Linked DNA regions of Homo sapiens. Changing the gene in region 3 together with the main gene of any one other region gives a genetic interaction. Each region holds a gene or a part of one and is shown on either strand. Other genes may lie near its edges.

The links. Genes that interact genetically often act in the same process or in processes that back each other up.
Region 1: changes in PPP4R4 (region 3) and HAPSTR1 together harm fitness less than expected from each alone (positive genetic interaction), as found in Homo sapiens cells (one large-scale study listed by BioGRID).
Region 2: changes in PPP4R4 (region 3) and FASN together harm fitness less than expected from each alone (positive genetic interaction), as found in Homo sapiens cells (one large-scale study listed by BioGRID).

Annotation. Positions count from the first base shown.
Region 1 is NC_000016.10:9,105,144-9,108,923, forward strand, and holds part of HAPSTR1 (HUWE1-associated protein modifying stress responses 1), read left to right. Parts: exon of another isoform or gene 1-1,621; intron 1,622-3,227; coding exon of another isoform or gene 3,228-3,361; exon of another isoform or gene 3,362-3,780. UniProt on the Homo sapiens protein: Acts as a central player within a network of stress response pathways promoting cellular adaptability. The E3 ligase HUWE1 assists HAPSTR1 in controlling stress signaling and in turn, HUWE1 feeds back to promote the degradation of HAPSTR1.
Region 2 is NC_000017.11:82,084,457-82,088,236, forward strand, and holds part of FASN (fatty acid synthase), read right to left. Parts: coding exon 3,660-3,780; intron 3,579-3,659; coding exon 3,498-3,578; intron 3,406-3,497; coding exon 3,229-3,405; intron 3,049-3,228; coding exon 2,869-3,048; intron 2,798-2,868; coding exon 2,594-2,797; intron 2,103-2,593; coding exon 1,798-2,102; intron 1,416-1,797; coding exon 1,026-1,415; intron 947-1,025; coding exon 782-946; intron 701-781; coding exon 579-700; intron 498-578; coding exon 343-497; intron 261-342; coding exon 57-260; intron 1-56. UniProt on the Homo sapiens protein: Fatty acid synthetase is a multifunctional enzyme that catalyzes the de novo biosynthesis of long-chain saturated fatty acids starting from acetyl-CoA and malonyl-CoA in the presence of NADPH.
Region 3 is NC_000014.9:94,180,822-94,184,321, reverse strand, and holds part of PPP4R4 (serine/threonine-protein phosphatase 4 regulatory subunit 4), read right to left. Parts: intron 1-3,500. UniProt on the Homo sapiens protein: Putative regulatory subunit of serine/threonine-protein phosphatase 4.

The DNA of each region.
Region 1 (3,780 bases), on a different chromosome or scaffold from region 3:
TTATTGTTTTCCTGAACTTTGGGAGTTTTAAGCAATGATACAGTTGAAGGGACTGTTTATAATTTTCACATGTTTAAGTTGTGAGGCTTTAAAACTTAAATATAAGGCTTTGTCTAGGAAGAAAATGATCTTTACCTTCAATAAATTTATAATGTAGCACTAATCCAGTATAGATTGGAGACTGAATGCATTCTTACTCTTAGGGTTCATACCTCTAATTCATGTGGTTAAGACAGTGTTGTGGTGAAGTAATAGGGCCCCTTGAAAGAATCTACAGAAACATAAATTATACTGAGTTGTGCTGTACTGGTTTGTGAGAACATCAGTGTATTAAGGAGAATGGTAGTTTAATTTGAATATTTAAAGAAAGTAATTTGAATGGTTCTAGTACTAGGGCCATTATTAACTAGTAACATAGATTAGTGACTTCAACTGGGTGTCCTTATTATCTGATTTGTCTGAAGTGAAAACTGTTAAGGTGCTCTTTTAAAATGTATTTGGAAACACCATAGTTAGGGTAAATACAATGTCACAATTCACTCTTGCATATTATTTGCTTAGCCAAATTTATGAATTCTAAGTTAGGCCAAATTGAAGGTTTTGGAGTTTTACATTGTGGGTGAGTCTAAATTCATGCGTTTGGCAAGCACAAGGACATGGGAAAAGAATCTGGTATTTTGAGGCAGGCTTGAGTTTATAATGAAAGCAAACTCAGTTCCTCTTCATGTCCTATGTATTTAAGAGAGGACAGTTTTCCCTCAGTTTTTTTCCCCTTCCTTACCCCTACCCCCATCAAATACAGCCCAACCAAATAACTGTGTTCTTAATTTAAAGGAAAATGGCAGACTTGACACCTGCTGAATATTTCGTGTAGACAGAGTATGACAATGAATGAGATCCCCAGTCATTGCCCTTGTAAGCCTGGGAACCCAGTTTAGTGGGAGAGACTAATGTAAACAGCTTTAATCAAAAGTATATCAATTGGCCGGGTGCTGTGGCTCACACCTATAATGCCGGCACTTTGGGAGGCCAAGGTGGGTGGATCACTTGAGGTCAGGAGTTTGAGACCACCCTGGCCAACATGGTGAAACCCTCTCCCTATTTAAAGAAAAAAAAGTAAGGCATATCAATTTATGGTTATCAAATAGGTTTTTTTTTTTTTTTTTGAGACTGAGTGTCGCTCTATAGCCCAGGCTGGAGTGTAGTGCTCACTGCGACTTCCGCCTCCTGGGTTCAAATGATTCTCGTGCCTCAGTCTCCCGAGTAGCTGGGATTGTAGGCGCCTGCCACCACGCCCAGCTAATTTTTGTATTTGTAGTAGAGATGGGGTTTCATCATGTTGGCGAAGCTGGTCTTGAACACCTGACCTCAAGTGATCTGCCTTAGCCTCACTGCTTGCCCCTAAGTGGTGGGATTGCAGGTGTGAGCCACTGTGCTGGCCTCAAATAGTTTTTATCAAAGCTACTTCAATTAGTGGTTAGCAAGGCTTAAAGACTAATTCAGTGCTTTATTTTGACACTTGTTCGCAACATGTTGCTTTTTTTCCTGTGTCCTATGGGACCTAGTCATCTGTATGTTAGATTCACAGAGGAATTAAAGAGATAAACATGCATGTGCTAAATTGATTTCTGTCTTGCTTTGTTATCCTATAATAATGTTATAAAATAACATTATTATAAATTTCCCAAGAGTTGAATTAATACCAACAACTGGTAACTCGTTTTTATGTAAACAGCATACTTGAGACCAGAAATCTTCTGGATCACTTTGTGGATCTCTGCCTGCCATTCTCATTGGTCCTCTGTTCATCCCTTTTCTAGAGCTTCTCCTTACCTTGGCTTCTCTTCTGCCACATTGGCCTGCCTGACCTGTCCTCAGGCCCTGTCACTGCCCTAGATTACGTTTCCCATGTCTTCACTTCCAAATCTGGACCTCTCGTTTAGACCTTCTCTCCTGACTGCCAGATGGCATGTCCCACTGTCCTCCGGTGTACATCTCCAAATTGTCCCACAGGCATTTATCTCAGATGAAGTTTCAGGTTGGACTCATTCTTCTGCCCCAACAGCAGAATGACTCATTGAGCCATTGAGCCATTCAGCACATTCTCTATATGGCAGATTCGGTGCTGTCTCTGGAAATACATAAACATAGAGCGATTCCTTTTTCTGTTGAGGCAAAATATGGATTTGGTTAATTTCTATTCACGTCATGAATGTGGTATGTGGAAGGTCTTCTGAGAGCAGAAAGGGATGTTTCACAGCACAGCCCGGCTGTGTGGTGCTCAGGGCAGGCCCTCTGGAGGAGGTGAGCCTGGGCTCTTGGCCTAATGTTTCAGCTCTCACTTTCCAGTCCTGAGCTGTTGTTGCCAGTCCATCTTTCATGAGACCATTGGAGTGATCTTTCTGGTCTTGTCACTTCATGGTTTAAAGTTTCCCTGGGCCTACACAGTGAAGTCCAAATTCAGCATGGTATTACAAGACCCTTATGATCCAGTCTTAACCATTGGTTAGGTATCCTACCCATACTGTTTATCTCTTGAATACCTCTATGCTCTTTGACAAGTCCAGCCCCTACGTGTTCATACCTCACTTCTGTGACACAGCCTTGCTTCAGGGCTCCCAATCTCTGTAGCCTCCCTGAACTGTGCATTTGCTCTGCTGCTTGATTTGTTTCTGTGACTGTTCCATTCTCCTCGGGACACATAGCAGGGACCTTGTCTTGGTCCTTTTTTTTTTGGCTTTAACAGAACATAGCAAAGAACCTGACATAGGTGTAGTCTGAGTTTACCACTGGGGTTATCACAGAGGTCTGCTAAGTGAATACAACACAGTGGGGACCCAGAACCTCTAGAAAGGGTTGAGGATTACAATCCCCAGATAGCTACAATCAGGGAATAATGTAACCTGTTTGCCTAGGGTGCTACATGGTAATCTTGAATTAGAACAACTGAGACTTCCATGGGACCTTAGGGTGATAACCATTAAACCTACTCTTTCAGTGTTTACTTTGTAAAAGCATCACACTAAGGAGGTTGTCATTTAATCCTCACACCTACCCTGGGTTATTAACACTGTTGATGAAGAAAGCCTTACTTGGCTAAGATATGGAGCAGGTTAGTAAGTGGTAGAATAGATACTCCAGTCCTGTCTCCAAAATGCAAATTTTTTTTTAATTAAAAAAATTTCTAATTTTCAATATATTTATTTTTGATTTTTTATTTTCTGTAGAGTTGGAGTTTCGCCATGTTGTCCAGGCTGGTCTCGAACTCATGGGTGCAAGCCATACCCCAACCTCGACCTTCCGAAGTGTTGGGAATACTGGCATGAGCCATGATGCCTGGCCTCAAAATGCATACCCTTAACCACTATGCTCTCACATTTTTAGATGTGGGATTTCTGTCTACGACGTCGCCCCCACTAAGACCTAGGGCTTAGGTGTCGAGGTGGGAAAGATCTTGAGGCTTTTCTTCTCAAAATTAATCAGAAACGATGTGAATTTTATATCTCTTTCTGAGGTTTTCCCCATAAGCTAATCGGGATTAGTAGACTTAAAGGTGAATGACCAACTGTATCCCTGGTTCACTGGTTAGGAAGAGTACATAGTCTTTGTGTATAGGCTATTTTCCTCGGTAACCTTGGGCAACATGCTTGACTTCTCCAAGCCAGTCTCCTTTGTGAAAGGTGATATACTTACAAGACATTATATTAAATGAGAACCCAGGCAGGTTACCTACCCTACCATGACACTGGAAGTATTCTTTGCCTTAAGAAAAGGAGAATT
Region 2 (3,780 bases), on a different chromosome or scaffold from region 3:
GCTGGGGTCTCTGCTCCCCGGCCCAGTCCACTCCCACGGCCCCATGCCACCCATACCTGGGATGGCATCAGGGGACAGCTTGCCAGTGGCCAGCATGATGTCGCGGAAGTTGAGGGAGGCGTAGTAGACCGTGCAGAGCTGGGCGCCAGGGCAGGTGGGCTGGGCATGGCGCAGCGAGGAGCAGACCCAGCGGATGGAGGACAGGTCCCCCCGGGTGAGGGTGCTCACAAAGGCATGTGCCGTCGGCTCCTCAGGCTTGTCTAGGGAAACAGGGAGGTGGGGCTGCTGCGGGGCCTTCGGGTGCAGTCTCCCGGGAGGGGCAGGGCAGTGTCGGGGGCTCACCCTCCTCCAGCAGGAAGTGGCGGAAAGCCCCCCAGGCCCCGTCGCGGTAGACGTTCATCACCAGGTCTCCCTGCAACACCTTCTGCAGTTCTGCGGAGCCCGGGTCCACCTCCGGGACGTGGGAGGTGCTGCTGAGGTTGGAGAGCAGCACACACCTGGGGGCAGAGGCGGGGAGCTCAGGCTGGGGATGGGGAGGCTGGTGGGGAAGGGGAAGTGGTGAGGGGCCGTGCTCCTACCGGAGGCGGTTCCCGCCGGGCTCTCGGCGGAGACAGTTCACCAAGCCCACCACGCCCGAGGTGGCACAGTTGATGGCCTTCAGCCACACAGGCCGGGAAGAGTCTTCGTCAGCCAGGATGCCCTACAGCGGGTCGGGGAGGGTCAGGCCACACTCGGCAAGTTGGGAGGTGGGGTGGGGCCTGGAGGTGGGGCAGGGCCTGACCTTCAGAGACTCCACCCAGCGGAAGCTGGTATCGTCCACCGGCAGGAAGATGGGGCTGTCCTGCGGGGTGGGCCGGCGGCACAGGAAGAGCGTGGAGCCGTAGAAGGACTTCTTCAGGCCCACCAGGCGCAGCGACACCCTGGAGAAGAGGCTCTCCCACGCGTCCTGTGGGGGCGGTGGTCAGCACCCTGCCCGCCTGGCCCTCACCCGGCCCCCACCCTGTCCCCCTGCCCGGCGGCCGCACCTGGCTCAGGATGCCCTGGCCATACTGCGGCTCAGTGGAGGTGAGGAAGGCCACGATGTCCCCGAGGGGGTGCCCCCGGAGCAGTGTGTGCAGGAGCAGAAAGCCCCCTTCTCTCAGGGCAGCCACCATGTTGCTGAGAGCTGAGGCCGGGTCCCCGAGGGCAGCCACAGCACAGTTGCACACCAGGAGGTCGGCGCTGCCCAGGGCGCTGGGGGCAGGGTCTGCGGGATCCCACTGGCCCTGGGCAACGTCGTGCTGCTGCAGCTCGGCCTGGGCAGCCTCCAGGGCCTGGGGGTGGCGGTCGGTGGCCGTGTAGCTCAGCTGCAGCAGGGGATGGGGGCTGAGCAGGCCTGGGATGCGGGAATACAGGTGACCGTGGCCAGCCAGCACCTGTAGGGGGTGAATTCTGGAATCAGCCCCACACCAGGCAGGTGCCCCTGACCTGGGGCTGGGCAAAATGTCCATGAGGCCTCAGTCTGGCAGAAAGGCTTCCCCGTCAACCTGATGACGGTGCCAGCCATGGGCACGCATGGATGCCACTGGTCTTGTCCCTGGGGTCCTGCCTAGGCTGCACCTCTTGGAGCCCACGGGCGGACCCTCCACGGTGGCTGTGTGGACCGCACAGGACACGTGCACAGAACCACACAGGGAACTGGCCGGCCCCACCCACCGCCCAGGGCCCGCCCCGTGTCTGTGCTGTCTCCTGCAACTGATGTCAGGGTGGGTCCTACCATGTCCGGGGCAGAGGCCTGGCTGCCCAGGAGGCACCCACCTCCACCACCTTCATCTTCAGGCTGGGCATGTTCTCCACGGCAGTGTCCAGGCAGGCCTTGAGTGCCGGGGAGTCCAGGAGGCCGCTGAGCAGAGGGTCCTCTGGCAGCTTGGGCCTCTCCTGGGCCAGCACCTGCGCCAGCTCCAGCTGCAGGTTCCCGTTGAGCTGAAGCCTGCAGGCAGCCGACAACAGCCGGGGCAGTTCCTGCTGTGAGGGGTCCCGGGGGATCTGGGCCCCATCCAGTCCGGGCACCACCATCTTCAGCCCCTGCTGGGTCACCTTGGTCTGCAGTGCCTGCACCAGCCCTGGGGAGGGAGGGAGGCAGGCCTGGTGTTCCCAAAGCCCCAGGGCATCTGCCTGGCATGGGCTCTCAGACCCACTCTGTCCTTCTGGGGCCACCACCCCGCTCTGCCCACAGGATGAGAAATAGCTGAGGGTTGAGGAAGGGGCTGCCCACCACTGGGAGGCTGACTCCTGCCCACTGTGGACGCAGTGAGGGGCCGCATTCAGCTGCAGGGGCTACTCTGTGCCTAGCCAAGGTGTGACCTTAGGCTGAATCTGTCATCTTTGCCCCCAAGTACCCTTTCAAGACTGAGGAACAGTGACCAGGGACGAGGAAGGCTGGGGGCTGGGGGAGGGAGGGAGGCCGCCATCGTGAGCTCCGGCCGGAGGGTTGGGCTAGGGTTGCTGACCCCAAAGGGGGCCCCGTGGAGAAGCAAGTCTGGGGTCAACGTGAGGGGAGGCGATCGCTCCTCATCGCCAGAGGTGTCCGAAGCCAGCAGGGCTGGGACCTCACCCTTGCACAGTTGCAGCTCCTCCTGCAGGGCAGCGCGCTCAGACAGGCACCCCTCCTCCGTGTGGGGAGTGAAGCAAAACTTCTCCAGGATGGGCACCTGCTGCTCCTGCTGCCGCCGCGGGGCCGACTCAGTGTGGAGCCCGGAGATGTGGACGCCTCCGGCCACTGTGACCCTCAGCCACCTGCTCACCACCACGTCAGCCACTGTGGGGACAGGCTGGGTGAGTGCGGCATACTTGGGTGGGGGCACTGGGCTGGGGCTGGGGCGGGGCTACCTTGGGCCTTGTCCTGCAGTGTGTACAGCTTCTGCCTGTGGGTGGCAGGGTCGATGTGGATGGCGGTGACACGGGTGGGCAGGTACAGGCCGTGCTTGGCCGAGCCCAGGATGGACATCTGCAGCATGGTGTCCATGAAGCTCACCCAGTTATCCTTCCACAGCAGCCTCCCCGAGTCACCTGCACACAGGGCCTGGTTGGTGCTGTGGAACTCCCAGGTCCCTGGGGCCACCTCCCAGAGCCCACCGGGCCCCTCTGCTCCCTCCCAAGCTGCATGCCTAGCTGTGGGTGCCCTCTGTGGTCCCCACAATGACGACCGCCCTCCCCGGTGGCTTGGGCAGCAGTGTAGTCAGTACCCACCTTCCAGGCTGGCCTCCAGGATGCCCTGGAAATGAGGGCCGTAGTCGTAGCCACGCAGACGCAGCTCCTTGTAAACTTCAGCCTGGGCCAGGAAGAGGGGCTCCGTGGGGTTGGGGGTGGGGCTTTCCGGGTGGTCGAAGAGCCTGGGGTCAGGGTCATCCCACTGGTACACCTTCCCTGTGGAAAGGGAGGTGCGGAAGGGCCTGAGGACGGGCGGCATGGCCAGCGGGCACAGCCTCCGCAGCTCCCGTGCCACCGGCCCTGCTTACCACTCACTACCAGGTTGCCGTTCTCTGACACCTCGAAGGCACGGGAGGCCTCCAGGAGCCGTACCTCCAGGGACACTGTCCCTGCAGAGCGGGAGAGTTGGAGATCAGAGGGCAGCACCCGCCCCCCAGCTACCCCCGCCTTGGTCCTGGGGTACCCCTCACCAGTCTTGGGCAGGATGGTGGCCTGGTGCAGCACCACATCCTCAAACACCACAGGCAGCTGCTCGACGCCCAGGCCCAGGGCGCGGGCCAGCGTCTTCCACACTATGCTCAGGTAGCCAGT
Region 3 (3,500 bases):
GCACCACTGCACTCCAGCCTGGGAACAGAGCAAGACCGTGTCTCAAAAAAAAAAGAAAGCTATGAATTTTACCACTTGGTATGGTGAGCCCTCTAATTCTTAATGTCAATACTAAGAAACTACTGCACAATTCAACATTACAAGACTGGGAACCAAGCAGTACAACTCCCACTTTTTACTGGGAACTAATTAGTTATAATTTATGATAGAACTCAATCTTCCTATGTCCCTGTGTCTCACTTAGCTACTTCTCAAGAGGGAGCGTTGGGATGAATTAATTGCTCATGAAAATAAACATATACACACACATGCATATACATTTATGATATACATATGTTATAATATGATTACATTGATAGTTACATAACTTGACACATTATTCAAATATGTATACTCATTTATTTTATATTGCTTTATATATTATCTTATTTTATAGATTAATTTTAATGTATTTTATTATTCTATATTATGAAATTATTTTGTACTACAGAATTGTATAGGCTTTTTTAAAGTAATAAAACACTATGCTTACAAGATGAAAACTTTGCTCAATTCTCTCACATCACATTATGTTATTACGCTTTCAGAGGTCTTTTCAATGACATTATATGGGTCACTTTTACATTGATGAAAATATTTCACTTTTTATTTTCAAGCTTTTCCTATAGATCCCATGAGAGCATTCTGCTTTCTACAGATGTCACAAAGAAACCTTTCTGAGTGTTTGGTAAGTAGGAAAAAAGACACAGATGCCTCCCATGGTTGTTCTCATAACAAAAGACAAGGAAACAGAGATGGGAAACAATCTCCAAACCCTTTATATTCACAGACCTCGTACTTTTCCAAAACAGGGAATTCAAGGTTTGCCAAAGACTTCAGTAATTTGGCCTTAGCAATAATGGAAGGTATACAGCTGGAATCCATTATATACTGCTCTTAATATATTAAACAGTGATCCCTCTGTCCTAAAAAATACAAATGAAGATGCCTGCAATTTCCATGTAGAAAGGCAAGTCATTTGTACATCATCTTCACAGAGGATGACAACGTGGGCAATTTTTTTAATGAGGACCTCTTAGAATCATTAAAAGCACAGGGACTGAGAATAGCACTCCCATAAGCAGGTAGACTCCAATATCCACTTTGTTTCTCTTTTTCTAAGAAAAACTAATCACACAACATGCCTCATCTCCTAAGAGACAATCTAATAACTGAGAGTCTTCTAACCAACAGTGTAGCCAAGTAAAACCTTATAGAACTCCCCTTCTTGTAGGGAAAGAAAAAAAGTTAGATGGTGTAAGTCATGCACAGAGAAACGAAACATCTAAAGGCTATTAACTAGGAAGTTCATTATTGATATGCTAGAAATTATGTACTAGAAGTTTGTCACTTTTGTTTCCTAAAAATATATAGGCTGGGACCACTCAGACACTGCTGGCAGAAGTACAAACTGGTCAAAGCACACTGGAAAACTGTTTAGCAATATCTTTTAAGCTGGACATAGGCATATGCTATGACCAACAATTCGGCTTCTATAATGATACCTAAAAGAAATGCACACATGTATTCACCAAGAGACTTGTACATGAATGATTATAACAGCATTATTCATAAAAGCCCCAAACTGAAAACTAAGCCAAATGTCCATCAGCAGTGGAATGAATAAATTGTGGTATATTCACATAATGGAATAGTATACAGCAATGAGAATGAACAATCTGTTGCTCCATGCAACAATATGGATAAATCTCTTTTTTAAAATATTGAGCAAAAGCAGCTATACACAAAAGGTACACAGAGTGCTTCCTACTATATAAAGTGCAAAATCAGGTAAATCAATGTATAGTGTTAGAAGTCAGTAGAGTAGCTACCCTTTGCAGGAAGTACAGGGCACTGGGACAGGAATACAAAGGAAGCTACTAAGCTAACATGATAATGTTCTATGCTTTAATCTGGATACTGGGTACATGGGTGTGTTCACTTGTGAAAATTCAACAAGCTGTATTATGATTTGTGCACATTTCTGCATACATTCAAAGTTCGCGTTAAAAAATAAAATATAAGCTTATGAAAGTACTTCTTTAACTGATATTCCAAATTCATTACTTTTTTAAATCTATAAAGGCAAACAAAGAACAAACCAGACCATGGGAACAAATACAACAGAGAGACAGGAGAGGAATATCAAGAATGAAGCAAGATCATCACAGAGCACACTTGGAAAGGAGATGGTATGTATCTCTCTCAAACAAAGGTGTTTGAGATGTGACAAGATGTTAAAAGACCTGATTAAGCAATACTCTCTACTCCCTTGCAACTGCAAGCTGAAAGCTCGTCGCTAATAGGCTACTCTCTGGAAAGCCCACAGAATTCCACTCTCACTAATTGAGTTGTAATTAAGAGTCAGCTAAGTATGTTCTCAAACTAGTTTATTTCAAATTTCACTTGCTGTTGCAATTACATAATTTAATTAAATATTACCTAAATATATGAACACATATATTTGTTTCTATCAAATTAAGTTAAAAGTTTTAGAAAAACTAAATTCAATAAACATAAGTTGTCAAAGAAAATTGCTACTAAAGTATGGAAGAACAAAACTTTTAAAACACAAGTAGAAAATCATAAAAACCTAGAACCATGCTTTCAGACTGCTTCATAAGCAAATTTAAATTCTTGTTCAACTTTAAAGAAAACTGAACTTGATATTGTAAATGCATTATGGGGTGATTTATGAAAGAAGGAGAATTTCAAACTTTAATCAGCAGACCCATACTCAAAGAAAAGATCATGACTTCACATCAAAAGATTGGCAAATGAAAATATATTTATAGTTTACATTAAAATTTGATGTTGAAAATATGTAACATTTGTGATTTTATGATTCTAGCCAATTGTTTGTATTAACTAACCAACTATCTATCTTAATTGTGAAGAATGCAAAAGTCCTCTCCTGTGTATCACTAAAGAAAACTGAGCAAGCAATACTGGTCACTCAAGACCACCTATATACACATATACACATGCATGCACAACACAAATGTGATCTCTCTCTCTTCCTCTCTCTTTCTCTCTCTCACACACACACATACACACACACACAAACCATGCCTCACTAAAACAATACTGAAAGGAAGCAAGCATCAAAAACAGAAATCAAGACAATAATGAAAGTAAATGTGGGGACACACGTCATAAAAAGGAGGGCATTCAAAGGAGTTTTTCACACAACTTTCCACTTTGGGATAGCAAATAAGATAGGTATTTTAAAAGAAAAACAACCAAAAGCTAGGTGAGTAGCAAAGCTTTAATCACTGGAGTTCTTCCTTACTGTCTCATTGCTACCCTATCCTAGTCTTGAACCCAAGAAGAAGTACGCCAGAGTTCTCACATGGTACAACACTTGTTTATTTCCACTGATTTGACTGCAGAAATCTCACTCTTTCATATCACTAGGGGGAGCACTTACTCTTTAAAAAATAGGAAGAGAAAGTTAAAAA